Linked DNA regions of Homo sapiens: region 1 is linked to region 2. The links come from fine-mapping of genetic effects on plasma protein levels. A gene starts in region 2. The other region holds a variant in brackets. All regions are shown on one strand. Distances are from middle to middle.

Region 1 (2,902 bases), 77 kb before region 2:
GAGTGGCTGTGTTCACCCAGGAGTGGTTGTGTTCACCCAGGAGTGGCTGTGCCCACCCAGGAGTGGCTGTGCCCACCCAGGAGGGGCTGTTCCCACCCAGGAGGGACTGTGCTTACCCAGGAGGGATTGCTCATTGATGGAATTCTAATCACATTGATGGAATTCTAATCACAGGTCCTGTGTGCTTGTAAATGTTTGGAGAAGCAATTTAAACACACCAGAGTGTGCTGATAAGCACGTTGCACCGTTTACATAAGGTCCTAGAAATATGTAAACACATAGCACAGGACTGTGCTGGGGCCCAGGAGGCTGGGCCTCACACCAGGGGCTGCATCCCAGACTTTCCCCTGCCCATTGTCTTCAGAAAGGAGGAAACTGGGTCCTGGGGGAAGGCAGTGAATGGCCCCAGACTCCCACAGTGCAGACAGCAGCAACACCAGAACAAGGAAGGAACAGAGAGAGGGGGGAATTTCAGAGAGAAATAGAGAGAGAAGGAGAGAGAAGGGGAGAGAAGGGGAGGGGAAGAGAAGGTGAGGGAAGGGAGAGAAAAGGGGAAGCATGAAGGAAGGAAAGAGAAAGACAGAGAAAAGAAAATAGAAAAAGTTGCGCCCATCTGGACACACATCCCCCAGAGAACTGCGTGCCTTTCCTGGCCATCCTATATAAAATAGCCCCAGCCCCAGCATTCCATATCCTTCGTATATGGCCTTATATTTCTTTGTAGCACCTGTTCCCTGATATACCATACATTTATTTGCTCATTTTCCACCTCTGCCACTAGAACGTGAGCCCCAAGAGACAGGGAGCTTGATCGGCATGTTTGTGGCTGTTTCTCCAAGCCTGGGGCACTGCTGGCCCTGGTGAAGCGTAACTATCTGTATGAAAGTGTGCATGAAGCATTCATATGATGAGTGACTGAGTCCATGAATGAAACTGAATTTAGCTCTCCTAACATGACCAGACCACAGTTACTCATGAGTTGGCTGAGCAAGGAGCCCGGGAAAGCAAGTGAAACTCGGGGGTTTGACCTGTTCTCAGACTGCAACAATGGTTAACCTTAACAGAGCACTTATTAAGTGCCAGGTACCATTGTAACTACTTGCCATAATCCTATGTGGCAGGCACTCCCATTTTCAGATGGGGAAGGCAGGCACAGAGAGGGATAGCCATTTGCTTAAGGACACACAGCTAGAAGGAGGCAGAGCTGGGATTCGAACTCAGACAGTCTGGCTTCCACTTGTGTTTAATGCCATGCCCCACTGCTTCCCAGAGAGAAAATTCTAGAGCAAGGGTTTGAGGGACACTGACTTGGACCTTTCAGAATCCAACTGAGGAATTTCGTATCTTTTTTTTTTTCTAGCAATTTGAGGAAAGTCGAGGCCGGACCAGTAGCAAAACAGCCTTTTACCAGGCACTGCAGAATTCTCTGGGTGGCGAGGACTCAGATGCCCGCGTCGAGGCTGCTGCTACATGGTATTACTCTCTGGAGCACTCCACGGATGACTATGCCTCCTTCTCCCGGGCTCTGGAGAATGCCACCCGGTAAGCTAAGCTGCAGGAGGGTGCAGATTCCTACTGCTATGTTTTGGAGCAGACTCAGTTGGTGTTCAGGTCATGAATGAGAAATAAAGGCACGTGGCTTTGTGCTTGAGGTTTCCTCTGCATCATTCATTCAGCCTACAGCATGGGGAGTGTCCCTGCTGAGGGGAAGCCCTGGAGGACATGTAGGGTGG[A/G]CCCTGCTGCCAGGAAACCCCAAGCCAATGAGAGAAATGAGGGGGTGACTCTGGCTCTTCCTGGGCCATGAGGGAGCTGTCGGAGGGCAGAGACGAAGCACTTGCCAGAAGTGCCTGGTGCACGCTCCACCTGAAGCAGCCGCTCAGCAAATGCTCAGGACAACCTTCCACGCTCCTGGCCTTGCATTCACTGAGCCCAGTGCCCCCAGTCTTGGCTGCCCATCAGGCACACGTGAGCGCATTTAAAGGGTAGGTGACACACAGGGCCCATAGTGGGGCAGCATTTTCCAAAGCTCCCTCAGCTGATTCCACCTTGCAGTCCAGGCCCACCCGGCACGTGGGAAGCAGAGGCCTGGAGGCAGGGAGGTTTTGTGGCTGATACCACTCCCCACATAGGAACAGCCCAAGCTCTGACAGCCCTGCGCCCTCTCTCTGGGGCCCGCTGTTTCTTGTATCCACTGCTTACATGCCTTGTCCCCATTCAAGCTCAAGCTTCTCTCACTTGGGGAAGGCTGCCAAACCCCCACCCCAAGATGGCTAAAGGCTGCAGCCCCCAGGCCCTGCTGTCCCCAGGGTCCCTCTCTTGCAGCACGCCCCCGGCCCCAGGGGTTGTCGGGACAGACCTGCCTCCCTCTCCTAGTACTGCATGAGCTCACTGAGGCTGAGAACTTTTACAGAAATGCACAGCAGATGCACAAGAAATGATTTTTGAATAGAAATAAGAAAATAGCCAGGGCTCCAGTCCTTTCTTCCTTCTGAGCTCCTTAGGATGAGACCACAGTGGGGACTGCAGCTCTCAGGTCACCTTTGAGTCCCCTCACAGGTGACGCATCTTGGTTTTCTGAGGGCTCTCCAGTCCCAGTGGGAAGAATGGGTGGGATGCGAGTGCTTTTTACATTCTGTGCCTCCTTTTCTCTCTCCTTCTGGGAGGCCCATTTGCTTGTTGTCCCTGGGGACAGAGCCAATGTCAAGGCTCAGCATCCTTTGGTAAACTGGAGCCTGTTGGGAAGGGATGGGCTGGAAGGTGTTAGAGACCCACTGCCCTGCTTGGTCTCTCCACTCAGGAGCCTGTGGTTTCCAACTGGAGGGTCACTGGCTCAGAATAAAACTGTACCACCCACTTGGATCTTGCGGACTAAAAGGCTTTAATTTTCCCTCTAGTGGAGATC
Region 2 (2,882 bases):
TTGTTTTGTTTTTTGAGACAGTCTTGCTCTGTCACCCAGGTTGCAGTGCAGTGGCGCGATCTCGGCTCACTGCAACCTCTGCCTCCAGGGTTCACGCCATTCTCCTGCCTCAGCCTCCCGAGTACCTGGGACTACAGGTGCCCGCCACCATGCCTGGCTAATTTTTTATATTTTTAGTAGAGACGGGGTTTCACTGTGTTAGCCAGGGTGGTCTCGATCTCCTGACCTTGTGATCTGCCCGCCTCGGCCTCCCAGAGTGCTGGGATTACAGGTGTGAGCCACCGTGCCCAGCCTGGGATTTGTTTTTAAGCATCAATAAATTAATGAGAAGAAAATGACTGACATTTATTGGGCAGTCCTTACATGCCCCCCACATACCCTGCCCTTTAATTTTACATATATGATTTTAGTAATCCTCATGTATCAATTAGTATACAACTTGACTCCAACAAAAGAAAATTCAGACTAACTACAGTTTAAACAATAAAATATTAAATTATTTCATGTAATGAGAAGTCTGAATGGTGGCTCCAACAACAACATGAAGTCCCAACGACTCAGACCTTTTTTTTGCTTCCACTCTGCCATCCTCAATTTGTTGACTTTTTATTCTCAGCCTCATATACCCAAAATGGCTGCTGCAGCTCCAACCATCACATTTGCACACAAGGAAAGAAAAGAATGAGTAGATGGTCATTCTCTTCCTGAGGAAGGGAATCTTTTCTAGAAGACCCTAGCAGGTTTCCCTTATGTCTCATTGGCCGGAATTGGATCAGAGGCACATCCCCAGGTCAGTAAATGGAGAAATCATGAGCACCATCTCTTCTGGGGTCATGTCTATAGGGATCATAAACCTCTTCCATGAACACAAGCCTGCTGCTACCTCCAAGCAGCCACACATGCTTCAGCATCCCTTGTTAATAAGCTACAGGAAAAGAGAAGAGAAGGAGTAACTGTCATTTAAACCTCAGTGTCGAGTATTCCTACTGAGACCTGGAGATGCTGAGAACTTGCCAAGGTGTGAGAGGAGTTGCAAGGAGGCCATTGTGGTTGGGCATGGTGCACGAAAGGGAGAGAGGAAGAAGTGTACAGGGAGCTGGCTGGCCCAGGGGCCACGCCAGGACTGGGGACTCTGTGCTGTGTGATGGGCAGGCTTTGGACAGTTGTATCCAGAAGATGATCTATACATGACGCTAGTTCAAGGATTGCTCTGAGATGTGTGGATGGTAGAAGGTGGGCAGGGAGGCTGGGTATCAGTCAGGAGGCTGTGGCAGCGGTCCCCATGGGGAGCACAGGGCTGGACTAGGACAGCCCATAGAAGACATCCCATCTCCTTTCTTGCCCAAGGAAGAGACTCAGTGGCAGCAGTGCAATAAGGGTACAGGCCAGGAAACCCAACCCCCCAGGGATAGCAAGCATCCAGAGACACGTGGGGACAGCTCCAGCACCAAACGGCTTCTGACCAATGAGCAGAGACGGCAAACAGCAAATGCGTTACCGTGGCTTTCACGTGTCATGAAGGTGATGCTGTAACCTGAGCCTCAGAGCTCATTTTATTTGTGAATTCCTATCATCTCTAGATGGGTGGACTGAAAGCCACCTCTTTCGCTTGCAGCTAGGTAGAGGGGAGTGCAAGAGGGCAAATGAAAACCAGAAGTAGGGTTGGGCGCAATGCCTCACGCCTGTAATCCCAGCACTTTGGGAGGCTGATGTGGGCGGATTACCTGAGGTCAGGAGTTTGAGACCAGCCTGGCCAACATGGTGAAACCTCGTCTCTACTAAAAATACAAAAATCAGCTGGGTGTGGTGGCACATGCCTGTAATCTCAGCTATTCAGGAGGCTGAGGCAGGAGAATTGCTTGAGCCTGGGAGACAGAGGTTGCAGTGAGCAGAGATCGCGCCACTGCACTCCAGCCTGGCCGACAGAGCGAGACTCTGTCTCAAAAAAAAAAAAAAAAAAAAAAAAAAAGAAAAGAAAAGAAAAAGAAAAAGAAAAGGAAAAAGAAAACCAGAAGTAGGAGCAGCCTGAAGAAATGACAGGGAGTTGATTTCCCACTGGGAGCCCTCTCAAAGCCCACACACCCGCCTGCCTGGGGTAACAGTATCTCCTCGGACATCCTGCACCCTCCCATGCTCCCCCCTCCCTACAGTAGTGAAAGACCTAGGCAGGATGACCCCAGCTCCTCTGTGAGAATTTCACACCCTAGTGTGAAGTCATAGCCTTGTAACTTTCCCTTTAAGAACTGTCAGAGCTGGGGAGGCTGGCCAAGCTCAGGCTGGAGGTGGGGACAGAGGGAAGAAAGAAAAAAAAAAAAGAGAGAGAGGCAGGAAAAGTTTTTTCAGAGGAAAATGCAGGGTTTGTCCTTCACCCTGACGTCAGATCTTGCTTTAATAAAACCCCCCAAGGGCTGCGGAAGAGGCATATCTGGTGCTCCTGATGGGCCGGCCAGTCTGGGCCCAGCTCCCCCGAGAGGTGGTCGGATCCTCTGGGCTGCTCGGTCGATGCCTGTGCCACTGACGTCCAGGCATGAGGTGGTTCCTGCCCTGGACGCTGGCAGCAGTGACAGCAGCAGCCGCCAGCACCGTCCTGGCCACGGTGAGTCCTGCCTGGAGGGGCTCAGAGGGAGACCCAGCTCCCTTCTCTACTGGGTCCTGCTACATGGGGGCTGGTGGGCAGGATGAAAAGGGCCAGGAAGGTTTGGGGCTGGAAGGTGGCCACTTACAGGGCAAGGACAGAGCCCAGGGTGAGGAGTCAGCTGCCCAGGTTGGCTGAAGCTGGCAGGGTGAGGAGGACGGTGCGACACTTGGGGAAACAAACTGCACAGGTCCAGCCTGCCCTCTCTCCCCACCTGAAACAGTGCAGAAAGAACGGGGCCCTCAGC

Direction of the effects. Alleles are on the strand shown, and positions count from the first base shown. The strength of an association depends on the size of the effect and on how common the allele is.
In carriers of allele G in region 1, the plasma level of the protein whose gene starts at base 2,422 in region 2 tends to be higher than with A alone (moderate association).

Evidence for each region. A credible set is the group of variants that fine-mapping cannot tell apart. PIP is the chance, under the fine-mapping model, that this variant and not a neighbour inherited with it causes the effect. The UK Biobank Pharma Proteomics Project read protein levels with antibody pairs (Olink). The fine-mapping took linkage between variants from a reference panel, not from the people measured, so its PIPs are less certain.
Region 1: its variant is the best candidate, but not a certain one, in a credible set for the plasma level of the CCN4 protein (UK Biobank, PIP 0.57).

The regions. Positions count from the first base shown.
Region 1 is chr8:133,112,062-133,114,963 of GRCh38, forward strand. TG (thyroglobulin) reads left to right here. Exons shown (of 48, transcript NM_003235.5): 44 at 1,361-1,542. Among named protein-coding and RNA genes, the nearest start is that of SLA, 11 kb to the left of the region's middle. The variant A/G (reference allele first, on the strand shown) is at 1,734.
Region 2 is chr8:133,188,618-133,191,499 of GRCh38, forward strand. CCN4 (cellular communication network factor 4) reads left to right here and starts at 2,422. Exons shown (of 5, transcript NM_003882.4): 1 at 2,422-2,596. The coding sequence starts at 2,528.